Regions from separate parts of the Homo sapiens genome. Here region 2 is linked to region 1. The links come from fine-mapping of genetic effects on gene expression. Tissue or cell type: testis. Region 1 holds a variant in brackets; the other region holds the start of a gene. All regions are shown on one strand. Distances are from middle to middle.

The links. PIP is the estimated chance that this variant, and not a neighbour inherited with it, causes the effect.
Region 2: it holds the start of SCG5, and the variant in region 1 is fine-mapped to the expression of SCG5 in testis (GTEx, PIP above 0.99).

What each region holds. Positions count from the first base shown.
Region 1 is chr15:32,669,062-32,677,245 of GRCh38, forward strand. The region is part of intron 10 of ARHGAP11A-SCG5 (ARHGAP11A-SCG5 readthrough); the gene reads left to right. The region is part of intron 2 of SCG5 (secretogranin V); the gene reads left to right. It overlaps SCG5-AS1 (SCG5 antisense RNA 1), which reads right to left and starts at 4,004. Exons shown (of 4, transcript NR_135505.1): 1 at 3,929-4,004; 2 at 1-57. RefSeq lists an enhancer at 1,121-1,653. The variant CTG/C (reference allele first, on the strand shown) is at 3,564.
Region 2 is chr15:32,637,428-32,645,611 of GRCh38, forward strand. It overlaps SCG5 (secretogranin V), which reads left to right and starts at 4,283. Exons shown (of 6, transcript NM_001144757.3): 1 at 4,283-4,351; 2 at 6,159-6,391. The coding sequence starts at 6,166. It overlaps ARHGAP11A-SCG5 (ARHGAP11A-SCG5 readthrough), which reads left to right. Exons shown (of 14, transcript NM_001368319.1): 10 at 6,159-6,391. ARHGAP11A (Rho GTPase activating protein 11A) reads left to right here. Exons shown (of 12, transcript NM_014783.6): 12 at 1-2,514. The coding sequence ends at 418. RefSeq lists enhancers at 3,776-4,416, 4,417-5,055.

The DNA.
Region 1 (8,184 bases):
GTTGGTGAAGTCACTACTTTAAGAGAATTATCCCAGAAATCCTCTAAGTTGCAAATCCTACAGGAGCAGAGTACTACATGTTAATTAGCACTCATTATCATGTTAGTAGAGAAGCTTACCCAAAGGAATGATACATAGGACCTGCTATGTCATTGAGAACAGAGAGGTGGGGCTCAGGTTCTGGACAAATGATGTCATAAGTAAGTGTAGTTTCAGAAAGGAAGATGAAGTGGGAGCTTTAGATAATTGGAGGCGGTAGGCCTGTATATGGAACCAGATGCTAGAGAGCCCAAGTCCATATTTTTACTTTTTCACAGTTTTGTGTCCATATCCTCACCGAATCCCAACCACCACCACCACAGTTCTATATCCCGTTATTTTTTCAATAATAACTGATACCTCAACTTAAGCTCCACTCTGACCCTCAGCTAAGCCATATAATTTCAGCAAGAATTATAAAATAAAGTTTTTAAAGGACAAACATGAGCCTTAACCTTAGTATAAAGACATGCTTAGCCTTCATACAAATTGCCAAGTTGAGACTTCATTTCAGACGGCAAATAAAAGTTACATGAAGGAGCTAAAAGTGCTATTGCAAATTACCTATTTGAAACGGCTTTTTCAAAACCTGCTAAATTCACACCTCTCCTAAAAATGCTTCACTTCCAGATTATTTTATTTTGGGGTTTTGTGTGTATGTGTTAGAGGGGGTGGGGTTTGTGGTGACTACAGAAAAATTAGTTAAATTCATAGGATAAAATTTGAACTTTTGCAAATGAGTAAACAGCCAAAACAAACACCGCTTCAGAAAAAAAAAAAAATACACGTTTTCTCCTTTTGGAAAGCAAGCAATGCTTAAGCAAAATACCTTAAAAGTTAACTAAAAAGCTTTTCTAAAATAAACAACTCTGCTTGTGATCCTAAATTGGGACCACATGTAGATGTGAAAGCTACAAATGCAGTGCACTCAGAATTTGCGTCTCTGCCTTCACTGTTTGCGTGCCTCTGAGTAGATGATGATAATGTTGGCTTTGGTCCCCAAGGAGCCTGAGTTTTTTAGATCCTAGTATGAGGGGGAAAAGCAGAAGAAGAAAGAGAAGGAATGAAAACAAATGCCTTTCAAGACAAAATATCCGAATGGGTTTCATTTTGCTTATCTGCCAACAGGCTCAACCCAATTTAGATCTCTCCTACAAGGACAGGATAGTGCCAGCCAGGGTGTCTGCCCTTGCCGGCTATGTGGGGCAGTCCCTGTGAGGGACCAGGCTCGAATTCAGAGCAGAAGGATCACTCTAGCAAACTGCCAGGGCCAGCCCTCTGCCCTGAGGCAAGTCAATGAATTAGCCAATTCAGCACAGATAGAATCATTCCTTTGTTTTTCTCAATTACCAAATGCTGTGTGCTTTGGGGGTCACTTGTCATGTGAGTTTAGAGAATGTGGATATTGCAACATAAACCCTCACCATTCTAAACAGCTTAAACTAAATTCTGTTACTAGGGAGGAGAGCTGAGGTGATAATATCCATCTCTAAGTATAAACTATTGTGTGTTCATTTTCCCATTATGGGAGACAAATTTCTCTTCTCCGCTAGTGCTCATGATCTCTTCCACCAGGCACAAACATCAGATGTGTGTTTATGTGGACATATTTTGTCCCCTATTATTGGAGAGCAAGCTCCTTGAGAGAAGGGATTATGCTGCCTGGATTTGTAACTTTGTTAGGCAAAGCATGACTTTATTTAGTTTTGAATTGATGAGGAGGCACTGATGTTAGTAAAAAGCTCAAATGTCCTGAGCCCTGTTGCTCAATACCTCAAACACAGGACCATGATCACCACAATGAAAAATATGCAGGATCATTAATTTCGGCTCTGTTAATTGTGCTGTTAGGAAATGTTGACTAGATAGGAAAAGCAGCTAACGTTCATGGAGTGCTTATTACATACCAGGTACTGAGGTAAGCATTTTACATACAGTATCCGATTTGTATCCTCCCACAAGCATGTTATCCCCGGGTTAAAAGGGGAGGAATTGGGGTCCAGTGAGATTGGGAGGTTATGAGAATCCCACAGTGTGTGGCAGAATGTGGACTTGAACTCAGGGCCCTAACAACAGGAAGCTATAAAAGCCTCTTTGTATAAAAAGTGCTCTCTTTCTGTGGGTCCTCAGTAAATGAAAATATTTGCTTTTCATAAATAGGTTTGAATGTTGGGACCCTCATTTCTCACCAGGAGTCAAGGCCAAAAGGTCTTATAAATAAGAGTGAATTTTGAGAAAGGATGTGTGAAAATGACTCTGTTCTTTTCTTTTATCTCACTTCAGTTACTTGGGATGGAGGAAGCAGAAACTGGGAGTCAGACATCTAAAATATGAAGTTCCACCCTCATGTTGGCCATTTCTTTCAGCCTCCTTTCCCCATTCCTAGGGGCCAATCTGTTTCTCCCTCTCCTGCTCTTTCTCTTTGCCTCTGTCTTCTTCTTTCCTGTGGAGACAATAGCGTGTGGTGGAACTGCCTGAGTGCTTACTGAGAAGGAGAAACCAAGCGCAGATTGTATAGAAGCTGACGAATGAGTCCTCTGATTGTGGACAAGTGATGGCGCTTTTTGTAAAATTGTGTATGTGTTTACCTCAAGTAGTGAAAAAAAAAAAAGAAAAAACAACTTTTGGGGCAAGTTGGACCTTAGGAAGGAGATTTCTGGGTCTCGGGGTTTCTCTTAGCCCCCAGTGCCTGGTGCCTGCGGCCGGTGTCGCCTCAGGGAGTCCCAGGCTGTTCTGTGGCCTCCAGAAGGAGCCACCCCGCCCCTTCCTCGCCCCACTCCGCTTTGCCTTCCCTTAGCCTGGGGAGCCTTGCCGCCTCTCCACCTTCTCTCCTGGTCTCCTCGGGCGCTCTCGCGCTGGCACCTTCAGCTCTGTCAGAGTCTGAGGGGAAACCAAAGGAGGCCAGGCGGTGTCTGGAATGCCCCATCCGACTGCTTCAGGCTCCCAGACCGCTGACAAAAGGAAAACTGGTCCGTCGCTTTCTGAATGATGTATCGAGACCGCAGTGTATTTTTAGCATCTGCTGTTTGTGGTAACATAAGTGAAAACTGCTGGACCCGTTCCCTTCAGCTGAATGGCTGGTATTCAGGGGCCTGTGCCCGCTCCCTGCCAGACGCTCCTCACAGAACTCCCTTTTTACGAGGTGGGCGACTGGCTCCCTGGCACCAGGCTGCCCCACCACAATTCTTTATTGCCCAGCGCCAGTGCCCAATTGCATGAATCCCCAGGGCTGCAGGCAGCGTGAGGGGTGCGAATGGGACGATGCTGGCTGCGGGCTTGTCAGGGTGTTCCCAAGTTGTGTGGCAGAGTCTGGAGGGCAGGGGTTGTCCGGATGTTCCAAACCTCCAGCGTGAGGTGGGCACTCAGGTGCGAAGGAACCATGGTGGCGAGGCCCACAGGTGGCGTCCCATCCCAGAGCCATTTTGCCGGGGCCTGGCTCTGCAGTAGTCACTGACACCGGAGATCCCCTGAGTGACCTGGAAACTATGAGAGACCCCAGGTACCCCGACAGGTCATTCTACTAA[CTG/C]TGGCTGTGGAGCTCCAGCTCATCTTTGGAAGACGGAAACGCACTGGAAAGGGTATGAATGGACGCAGAAGGCCTCGTGGGGGCTCTCTCAGTGCCACTGTAGAGTGAACACAGGGCTGGAATCCAAAATAGCACCAACTTGCTGAGTGGCTTTAGGCAAGAAACCTTTCCCCAGGTCTCACTTTCTCACTTAGAATGATGAATAGTGATTCTTGTCCTACTGACCTCACTAGGACGTTTTTAATAAGGATGAAAGCACTTTGAAACTGTTGAAACCATAACATCACAAAAAAAAAAAAAAAAAAAAGAGACAGAGTGACGAAGTAACGCAGGTCCCATTTATGTTCTTAATTTCTGACCAACCTTAACTTCCATCAAAACTGCTTCCACTAGCCCCAGCCAGGAGAGCCGTTGCATCGTGGTGGGACATCATCAGGCTCTCCAACGGACATCGCTTATACTATGAGAACTCACGTTCAAGGGAGGTGTTTACCTCTAATTCCCACAGAACTAGCGTAAGTAAAAAATGGGGCAGCAGGATCCTTTCCTTGCAAAGTGTGAGCAAGTGCCTCTGTAGAGTAAAACTTTAAGTAAAAGGACTACAACGGCAGTGACAGCTCCTTTATCTGAAACTGCAGACTTTTAAGAAGGTTCTTAGCAGCCACACCGATGTCACAAATTCCATAAAGCAAGATCACCTAGGCACTCTCTCGGAGCTAATTTTATCTCATTTTATATATAATTTTAATAAGCCTGGCTCTCTCATTTTCTAGCCCCTTATTACTGAAAATGTGGCTCATGGACCAGCAGCATCTGCACTATCTGGGAGCTTGTGAGGAATGCAGAATCTCAGGCCCCACCCTTCACCTTGAATCAGAATCCACATTTGGATAAGATCCCCGTGTGTGTGTGTGTGTGTGTGTGTGTGTGTGTGTGTTGTGCGGGGGAGGGTAAAATTAGAAGAGACTTGCAGGGCCTAGGCGCACTCTCAATTTATTGTATTTCATTATGGAAAGGATTTGGGATGACTAGAATTAATAACTTAGAAGGAGTGAGGTGACAAAGAACATTAAAAACTATTGCATCTGGGACCATTTAATATAGGTTTGTTTGTTTGTTTGTTTTGAGACGGAGTCTCACTTTGCCGCCCAGGCTGGAGTGCAGTGGCATGATCTCGGTTCACTGCAACCTCTACTCCCCAAGTTCAAGTGATTCTCCTGCCTCAGCCTCCTGAGTAGTTGGGATTACAGGCGCCTGCCTGTAATTGTATTTTTAGTAGAAATGGGGTTTCACCATCTTGGCCAGGCTGGTCTTGAACTCCTAACCTTGTGATCCACCCGCCTCTGCCTCCCAAAGTGCTGGCATTATAGGTGTGAGCCACCGCACCCGGCCCATTTAATATAGTTTTATATCCGAATGCCCTTTAATACTCTGAGAATACACTGTTACAACACTGTATAGTCATTGATATTCCCAGTAATAGTCCCAAATTATCAAGAACAGGCAAAGTCATATTCTCCTGCTGTTTAAAGTATTTACCTAATGTTCATAGTGGAAAATTCTCCTTTAAAATGGTTAAATAAATCTTGATCTTAAACCGATGCTTCAGTGATCTGAATACTACATGAAACAGCACGTTCTCTCTAAAGAGATAAGTGAGATGGTACTATAATCGGAAACCTCTGTTAATTCGGATTTTGTTTTTTATGCACATTTTAGAGAGTCAAATTATATCAAGATAAAATATGATAACAGAGATTTACTCTAAAATTAAACAATGAAAAAAACCCTACCAGTGCAACAAAAAGGCCATGGCTGTTCAGAGCCAAGTAAAACTTTGGGGGTCAGAAGGTATTTAATTTTCATATTTCTGTTTACTAGGTACTAACAACTGATCTTCAAAATCATAGAGACAGGAAAATGGATTTGAAACCCAAGGGAGTTTTTAAGTAACCAGAAAAGTTAGTGCCCTCTTCTGGACAAGCGATCATTGGAGTTGTTAGAGGTTGTCCTTGGGAGTGCTGTTGGGGGCTTTGTTAACACCGAACAAGACCATGAGTGGCAAAACTTGGAGCTGAGGTTGATCAGGTCTCCAAGGCCAGGGAGAGACTCAAACCAACCAGGTCAACTTCCCAGCTGAATTGCCAACCTCAAAGGGATACGTACAGAAGGGAGAATTGGAGGCACATAGCAGAGGGTGAGAATGCAGAGAAGAGCAGGATGCGGTCAAAAGATTGGCAGATTTTTATGGAGGGTTCCAGCACAGGCCAAGAAAGAGATTTAAGGGTTCTGACTCAAATAAGACCAACTGTCCTTCTTTCTCATTCCCTTGACAATTACATCTGAGTGCAACTTTATTGCCATGGCAATACAAAGAAAGTCTACCAATGATTTGATATCTAGAGCTTAGAAATAAACAGCTGCATGGTACCAATTTTATTATATAAAGCAAAGTTTATATAAACGCAACTGGGCTTAAAACTCATTTGGCAAGAATTAAATATTTTCCATTTATTCTAGAGACATTTTTAGAGTGCCATGGCTGTGGTGGAAACATAAATAAAGCATCATCACAGGACAGGATTAATTAATTGCCTGAAATAATTTCAAAGCTGTAAGTGAAAGATCCTATCTTTATTAATGGTATTCTTTTCTCAAATCAGATTTTGAAACCTCACAAGCTTTTGACTCATCTCTCTCCTGTGCACTGCTAGAAATCTTATTTAACTCATGTTGCAGCCACCCTAATTCCAATCCTTGTCACTTCACTCCTGAGTTTCAGCAACACTCTTAGAGAAGAACTTCTTAATTTCTCTCCAACCTAGCTTTGTACAATGGTCTGTTCTCTATACCACCATCTATTGTCTATACTACAATACATTATGTTGGGAATATATCTTATTATGTACTACTGGCTTATTGTGTTAGTCATGGGTAACCAACTAGAATGAAGAACGAACTAGAGAACAGGAACTATGTCTTTCACATTTATGTCGTCTATAGCACCTAACGTAATTATTGCTACACAGTATGTTGCTACAGGGAGTCTTCCGTGGCCTAGATCTGGGCTAGATACTTCTCCTCTACACAACTGTGACACACTGCCGTATCCTGGTTACATTATCAGTGCATTACAACTGGCTGTATTACGTTTGTTTCTTTTTGTTTCTCTATGAACTATGAGAGCAGAGCCTACATTTATCTGGTTCATCACTGACCCTCTAGTACCTAGCCCAGGTTTTGATTATATATTATGTGCTCAATGCATATTTTTAGATTATTTGTTGTTGGTTAGTGCAGTAAGATAGTTAAGGAGGCTGGGATGAATAGACCAAATGGCATCCATAGCATCATATTATTTTGTTTGACTTGGCTTCAGGTACAATAGATCAATATAACCTAAATATTATAATGAACCAGATAACTGCATTTGGCCCTTTGCAACTGTATAATATTAAAATTATTATATTTTCTATACCTGTTTAATTGTCTATAAAATTCTAGCTCCTGGAGTGCAAAGGACAGCATTTTTTACTTCTGCATATCTCCCTCAGTTCCTACCTCAGTGAGTGTTTCTTGATCTGACATCATTAAATGCAGTTTAAAAAGAGTCTGTGTTCTAATCTGTCTGCTTAGTGCTAAACATCTGTTGCTTCCTAACAAGTGCTGCATTCATTTTAATGGCACTGGTGCACAGAGGTAAACGGAGCTTTGGCAGGCCTTCCATAAGAGAAACTGTTTGCTTCCTTCATTAATTACTAATGGAGCATTAAGACACGCATTCTGCCTTGAGCCAAGTTGGATAATTCCTGGCACTTAATGCTAGGGTGCTTTCAAAAGTTGAGACATGTACTGACACACCAGAGAGCCTGCCCTATAGCAAGCACAGTGGTGTCTATAGTGCCAACATTATATAAAGCTTCAAATATATCAATACCAAGTGTACTGATATGTCTAACCTTTGCATCTATTGGGTTAATGTGGAATCATAGGTATCCCTACACTAGCTCTGAAGGTAGCTATCACAAATGAGCTGGATGAATCATCAGAAAGATACAGAAAGGTTAAAAATAAAAGGATAATCAAAGATTTACCAATTAAACACAAATCAACAGAGTGAGAGTGGCAAGCTAATAGAACTATAAATCAACATCTGATTTATCAATTTATATTTAGCAGCCAATTGCCAACACAATTAAAATGAAACATTTATACCCTTGGATATGCTAACTAGTACAGCATCAAAATGATAAAAACAGTAAGAAATAAGAGAATGACAGTCACTTATTGTTAGTAGTAGATTTTAACATATAGCCATCAGATTATGATAGACTAGAGATAAAATATGAATATGGATATAAAAAGAATATAATTATAAATGTTGATAAATTGGCTATATTTAGATGTTTATGGGTTATATAAAATACCTTATATTACATATTCACATGGAAATTTTACAAAAATAATATGGTAGTTTACAAAAGAAATAGCATTTTTTTTAAATGCAGATATTTTACAGTTTCTCTCATTACAAAGCAGTGACCTAGATCTGGGCTAGATACTTCTCATCATTCTCATTACAAAGCAATGAAATATAATATAAATGTAAACAAAACAAG
Region 2 (8,184 bases), 32 kb before region 1:
AAGTGCATCAAAAGATTCCTCTGTTTCATGTATCAAATCAGGTCCTAAAGAACAGAAGTCCATGTCATGTGAAGAGTCAAATATTGGTGCAATTTCAAAGTCAAGCATGGAGTTACCCTCGAAATCTTTCTTAAAGATGAGGAAGCACCCAGATTCAGTGAATGCTTCTCTTAGGTCTACTACAGTTTATAAACAGAAGATCTTATCTGATGGCCAAGTTAAGGTTCCCTTGGATGATCTGACTAATCATGATATAGTAAAACCAGTTGTAAATAACAACATGGGCATTTCTTCTGGGATAAATAACAGGGTCCTTAGGAGACCATCAGAAAGAGGAAGGGCCTGGTACAAAGGTTCTCCAAAACATCCTATCGGAAAAACTCAATTACTACCAACAAGTAAACCTGTAGATTTGTAATTGGTAAATGTTATACTTGTCATTAATGTAAATAAAGTGAGTAATTGGTATGACTTGCAGGATGATGTACATGTTAGTTTGTAGCTCAGGATGATTGTTAAGCAATAGATTTGCTCTATTGAAAATGTTTCATTTTTTTCACTGTACAAGCAACTTAGATTTTTATTTGTACAAATTACTTCTTTGTTTTTCTTAATGATGGCAATTTTTAAACTTTAATTTTATTGTGATCTCTTAAAGCAGAGGTTAGACTTTACCTTTCTGACTCTGTCGTCCAGGCTGGAGTGCAGTGGCGCAATCTCACTGCAAGCTCCACTTCCTGGGTTCATGCCATTTTCCTGCCTCAGCCTCCCGAGTAGCTGGGACTACAGGTGCCCGCCACCACGCCCAGCTAATTTTTTGTATTTTTAGTAGAGACGGTTTCACCGTGTTAGCCAGGATGGTCTCGATCTCCTGACGTTGTGATCCGCCCGCCTCAGCCTCCCAAAGTGCTGGGATTACAGGCATGAGCCACCACGCCCGGCTAGACTTTACCTTTCTAAAGAAATTGTTTACTGGATTTATAAGAAGTTAATTTTTGAAAATGACATATTTTTGTGTGATAGAAAGAATGGAGCAAGTTGTGCCTATTTCCTCCAAGTCAGATAAGGTTTCTAAAATAAATAAATTTCTAGCATATAAAGGGTAGAGATAAACTCTGCAAATCTTATGTCTGGAATTATATTAATGTTTATTGTCCTTGCCAAAATTCCTAGAAATTAATTTCCTTCAATAGCATCCTAAAACTCTATTTTTATTTGGGGCAGAGTAATTTCATTTATAGTGCCAGTAGGTGTACCTTGTGTTCACTCGAACTAAGAACAATGGTTAAGGCAGAATAATGACTAAAATATGTTCATATATTATGATGTGGAAATAATTGATAACTTTTAAGCCATACTATGTTTTTAAAGATAATTTGCACAAACACGTTTGTGTCTGTTCTGTCCAATATAGATTTGGCAATTATTTAAAGAGGGATAATCTTGAAAAAAATTAACCAAGGTGATTTCTTATATGTAGATGCTCGATTTTGGAATTTGAAATAGTAGATGCACCTCTTTACCTTTTTTACTTGGATAAAAACCTATGATGATTTTGTCCTGTGTGTAAATGTTATTTATTTAGCATAGACATTAAAGATAACTCTCTGGAAAATGACTTGACTAAGGCTCTCATGAAATTCAAAGTGCCATTTAGAACATGCACCAAATTGTCAAGTAAATCTGTCTAAATTTATATTTTAAATTATTACAAATTACACATCTTTGAGGAAAGAGTATTATGAACAATAGAACATATTCTCTAGGTTGTAGAGGAAGGAATAAGCAGACAGAATCAACCACTAAAGGTAGTTTTTCAGATTGGTTGTTAGAATGTCATGTTTAGATGTTGGAGCAGATTAGAGCAGCATTCATGCCACTCGGAGCAACCAGACTTACAGCATAAGTATGTACGAGGAATTTCAAATCATCAGATGTTTGCTTGGCTAGGTTCTACTTTGTTTATTTGATATCAAATAGGTTTGTAGATGTTTATGGCATTTCTAATTGTAAGTAGAGACAAAATATTCATATAGTCAGATATATGTTGTCTGCTTTAAACAATTTTTAAATTTTAAAAATGCATTAACGTCTTTTTATATCCATCAAGGGAAGGATGAAATGTTGAATTTGAAGACTAATTCAGTAAGAAGTCCTAGGGGTTTAACTGTACATACTACCTGAACTGGCTTTTCTGAGAGATGAATCAATAATGAAACATGTCTGTTTTAAAAACTACCACATGTGACTCCTATTTTTGTTAGCTGAAAGCTGCTATACGGAGTATTACAGGAATGTGAAGGTGACTAGCTTGAAGGTAGGGTAACTAGAGAGCCAGAAAAGTTTTGTTTTAAACTTGATTTAATGCGTTTTTATTTTTTCTTATACAAAATAGAGATAATGTTGCTAACTTCATGGAATATTTGAGGAAATGATATGAAAGTGTCTGGACGTGCAGTAACCTCATGGGTTCTTCTCACTGTCTTATAAATGTAAATAAAGATCTAATATTAATTTGGTTATCTAATAACAACTTAATACATAGAACTTAGTAGACTGCATGGCCACATTCTATAATATGATCACTAAGAACTTAATGTAGGATTTTAATAGTCATGTTTTTCTTAATTGTGGCAGAATTTAAACCTTAATTTTGTGATCTTTTTTAGTTAGTTTGTTTTTTGTTTTCTTTTCTTTTTTTTTTTTTTTTTTTTTTGAGGCGGAGTCTCACTCTGTCGTCCAGGCTGGAGTGCAGTGGCACAATCTCAGCTCACCGCAACCTCCATCTCCCGAGTTCAAGCGATTCTTCTGCCTCAGCCTCCCAAGTAGTTGGGACTACAGGCATGCACCACCACGCCCAGCTAATTTTTGTAGTTTTAGTAGATACGGGATTTCACCATATTGGCCAGGCTGATCTCGAACTCCTGACCTTGTGATCCTCCCACCTTGGCCTCCCAAAGTGTTGGGATTATGGGCGTGAGCCACTGCACCTAACCTCTGTGATCTCTTAAATATATATGAAGTTTTATTTTTGAAACACCAAATTTCAAATGAAGCATAGGCATTTTGATCTATTTCAGTTAAATTTAACACAAAAGCAGTAAATTGTAGTGACTTCATTTTTTTCAACCACAAAATGAAGATAACAATGAACAAAGCTAAAGTAAAACTCAGAATTGAAAAAAGTCTCTGTGCATCAATAATAAATACTAACTCCAGCATGGCCAGTGAGCCTAGAGCCATTTAATGGATAGTGTTTGTCCTGTTGATTTAGCATGCATTGAAACAAGAAGCAAGAAGCAGATGAGCATCCGTGAAAGAAAAAGTACTGGGAAAGAGGCTTGGCTTCAAAATGAAAGGCCATGTGTCTCATAAATGAATTTTGCCAGCCTCTATTTATTGCATAAAAATTGCTGTAGATGATAATGGATTTGCTCTCTAGAGCTAAGATAAATAGATCTGGATTCTAACCTCATCAGGTTACTTGTTTTGAGACCCCCAGGTTCTTTACTCATCCTCCATCTTGATCAAATTTGTAGTGCCATATTTATTGTATGGCTTTACATTTTGATTTTAGTATTTGAACAAATTTCAGTGTTCAAGATTGCACATAGTAGGTGCTCCATAAACCCTTATTTAAGAATCTGGGACTACCTGGACATACTTCTACAGTATGCTGGGAGTATGGTTTCTCTTCAGGCCAAAGTGGAATTTTACTTGATGGTTTGTGTGGACGTTTAGAAATAACACTCAGAGCTGATATTTCTACAGATTTTCAAGTTTATCACTTTAATGGAAGTTTCTGGCTTCTTGTATTAAATATCCCCATAGTTTTCCTGATTAGTAAGAGGCCCCTCAGAGCAGGGTATACCTTATCATAGCCACCATTAAAAGTTCTTAGGACTTCATCTTTTGTCTCTCTACCATTCATTGCCTCTTCCCTCTTGAAGCTGAAAGGCTTTAGACACAAAAACAAAAAACATATTCTAGAAGTTGACAAAATTAAAGGTGTGCTGTAGTGGTGATCTGGCACGTTGTAATTGAGACTGAGGAGGTGAATGACTTACATGGAGGTCGATGGAGCTGAAGAGGGTCTCTAGGAAATGTCATAGTCAAGAGGTTTGTATGCAGAATGTGGGGGTTGAAGAGCTGTGCGGCTCCTGGTGAGAGGCACACTTATCTGGGATGCAGTCTGGGGAGTCCTGGCGAGGCAGCTTCCACCTGCTGGAGGAGGGGCCGGGGCGGAGCTAAGATGCGGAGGAGGGTGACGCACTAGCTCTCCAGTTCGCCCGTTCCTGGCCTGACCCCCACCAAGGCCCATACCGCAGTAGGCTCCTCGGGCTGCCCCTCGGTGAGTACAGTTTTGATGTCGGCTCGGCCGCCTGCCGCCAACCCGAGATTTGGTATTGCCAGTTGTGGGAGGGCGTCCTGCTAAAATCCTTGAGGTGGAGGCTGGGGTCAGACGAAGGATGCGTAGGGGATTAGAATGTTTGGCTATCAGTAAGGGGAAGGGAGTACTGAGGGAGGAGATTGTGTAGTTCATCAAATCAGAGCGGCGTTTGCTGGGATGACATCCTGCATTCAGAGTGGACAAGGGAAAGATGGAGATGGAGAGCCTCGTGTCTGCCTCCAGCCTTTTCCATCAGAATTGCAGATTTTGCTGTTAAACAGCTACTCTCAGCTCTTTGGAGAGCAAGGTTTTATATCTAGTGGCTAGAAAAGGCCTTTTCTTTGCAGAAAAAGAAATTGGAGGGTATAAAAATTTTTGTTTCAGTAAAGGAAATGCACGATTTTGCCTCCTCCCACCTCTCCATCCCCCATCCTCAGTAGAAGAATGATTAGAAGGAGGGTTTGCGCCGGTCCTGGTGGCTCACGCCTGTAATCCTAGCGCTTTGGGAGGCTGAGGGGAGGGGGTGGATCACCTGAGGTCAGGAGTTCGAGACCAGCCTGACCAATATGGTGAAACCCTGCCTCTATTAAAAATACAAAAATTAGCCGGGTTTGGTTGTGGGCGCCTGTAATTCCAGCTACTCGGGAGGCTGAGGCAGGAGAATCACTTGAACCTGGGAGGTGGAGGTTGCAGTGAGTCGAGATGGCGCCACTGCACTCCAGCCTGGGCAACAAGAGTGAAACTCCGTCTCAAAAAAAAAAAAAAAAAAAAAAAAAAAGGGTTTGCAAGGCCGCTGCCTGAAGCATGCATCCAAACACGTTAAGCAGCTGTGGGGTAAGCTGCAAGGATAATGTTCACTTGTTTTGCAGACATACCCATAGAAACCAACATTTTGGACAGGTTGACCCTCCCACCCCCAGGCTAGTTAACTCCCTCTCACCACCACTGCCTCCCCATATTCTAACCTCCAGAACTGTTAAGGCAATGTTAGCAACATAATAATAGCAATATAGGGGCTCATTCTGTGCCTGGCATTGTCCTAAACACTCTTAACATGTATTTGCACACACCCTCACAACAACCCTAAAAGGTAAATGCTTTAATTATCTCCGTTTTGCAGAGGAGGAAACTGAGGGACTTGCCTACGATCACTCAGCATGTGGCTGAGCAAACAAACCTCAAACTACCCCAGCAGATTGCAGGGCTGGATCTAAGGAACATTTTCCTTCCTTTCAGGATCGCAAACGTATTGGATGTTTGCTAAACTGAAATGTTTCCCTGCCACCACTCCCAACCTTCCTGAGCTTCTTGATTTGTGTCTTCCTGACTCCCTCCTGTTAGACTTTTATTCCCAGAGACTGGGAAAACCCAAGATGCCACTATCTCTTTCTCAAAATGTAAGCAAGTTTGGTTTATTTGTTTTAGTAAGAGAGGGAGAGAGTGATGAAGTTAGGAGTAATGCAGAACTTTCAGGGAGCTACAAGGAGGATAAAAATTATGAGTGAGAACCGCCATTCCAGCCTAGCTTTCTCAAGAATGCAAACAGAGGGAATTGGATACCTGCAACTGTTTTGTTTAATACCTTTCTGCAATGATGCTCTGCCTAGCATGGAAACTTAAGACAAAAGCAACCTCCTAAGGATTCTTTGTTACAACCCCTTTCTGGGTGGTCCTCGAACCACAACCTGGAGTGGTTGCATCATTATAATTGTATTATCACAATTGCCGATTGTAGCCTATCAGTATACATTTGGTCTTTTATCTGCAGGTTGACAATGGTCTCCAGGATGGTCTCTACCATGCTATCTGGCCTACTGTTTTGGCTGGCATCTGGATGGACTCCAGCATTTGCTTACAGCCCCCGGACCCCTGACCGGGTCTCAGAAGCAGATATCCAGAGGCTGCTTCATGGTGTTATGGAGCAATTGGGCATTGCCAGGCCCCGAGTGGAATATCCAGCTCACCAGGCCATGAATCTTGTGGGCCCCCAGAGCATTGAAGGTATTTACTGTGTTCTGATGGTTTGAAGTTTCCGTTAGCATTTTAAATAATATATTTGCACACTTCTCACAACAACCTTATAAGTAGATGCCTTTATTATCCTATTTTTTTCAGAGGAGGAAGCTAATTTTTAAGAGACTCTACTTTCTCATGGTTTTCCCTTTCTTCTTCTACACAGTGTCTACATACTTACATATACACACCCACATGAGACTATAAGTCCTGTGAGAGCAGGGACCTTATCTATCTAATTCATAGCTGTAGCCCTAGCACCTAGCACAATGTCTGGTACATAATAGGTGCTCAATTAATGTTTGTTGAATGAATGAAGGAGCATCTAGTGTTATCACTAAAGAAAGATTAGAACCCAGACATGATGTTTTCTCCTCACTGCTGATCTTCAGGAAATTGTGTCATCAGATAGCTGCCTTTTGAGTCAATGCCAGCCAGTACTTGTAAAAGAGCTTCAAAATGTAGAACCTACAGGATCTGACTTGATTCCTAGGAATGACTCCAGTATACCCAAGAGGAGACAAAAGAGGTACTGACATTAAGAGTTTACGTGAAAGCTTTTGAAAATATTTAAAAATATAACAATTTTATTAAATAATAAATTAAGAATAATTAAATCGTTTTAAGGTGGCAAGACCATTTTCCCCCTGAAGTTTTCCAAGTTTCTGGCAATGTGGTCATAATACTTGTATTAGAAAGCAGTACTTCATTTGTTTGTTGTTTAATGATTTGTTTATAAAGAGAATCTAGCTTCTATGAGCTGGTGATGCAGCGTTAGACAGATTCCTTATTTCCATGCTTTGCTTTTTATCCTCTGATTCTAATGATCTCCTTCTCCACTAAGGCAGAATCCTAAAGAAGTAGCATGGTTAATTTCAGTTAAATGCAAGGGAGCATTTCCTTATAGTTCAAGGATTTGCCCATGGAGTGGGTCCGAAGGAAAATGAGAATTATCTCTAAAAGCATACCAACCAAATGCTGTTTGTTCCCTACAGATTGATTATGCACTATTTTGCCAGAGTCTGTGATTTTCTAAAAATGCTATCTGCCCTAGGGTTCTGTGAATGCCATGAATATTGTTGATAGATGATTCTTATTTCTGTTTTGTTACCCATAGTTTTAAGCCATTGAGTAAAACTAATTCGGTGAGATTGTAGTCTGTTTAGGTTGACATTTGATTTCAGGAGTGGATTAACACAAATGCGTTGAATCGGCAAGCATGCAAACCTAGCACATGGCTTGAATTAGAACAAATCCGACAGAGCTTCCTGTCATCCCTTTTAGGGAGAATCTCAGTCCTTCTCAGCATCTGTCACCGTTACTTCAAGCACACCTATATATTTCAGGCCAGCTCTTTTGAGACAAACAATAAATATCTACCTTTTTAAGGCAGGAAGTGCTTGGTTATTCACCTAAGCTGTTGTCATGGAGTTCTCTGAGTTTCCACTAATACCTGAGGCCTGATCAGCTGTGCTGGAAAAGAAACAGCCACTCCCGGGGCATCAAAAGCCTCTTTATCCAGAGACTCCATTCCCTCCAGTATCCAACTATTTAGTACCCACTATATACCAGGCACTAGGCAGGAGACTGGTGCAGCTCTGCCCTAAAGATTCACAGTCTGAGTGGAGAGGGAAGTGGGGACACACATCAAAAGTTATGACAGTGCATCCCAGCAGGTGTTTTGATAGATGTACACACAAGCTGCCGCCGTGGAAGCAAACAGGAGTAATTTAGTCTGCTTAGGAGTGGATGGGGTGGCTATAAGGAAATGCTGCTTTGAA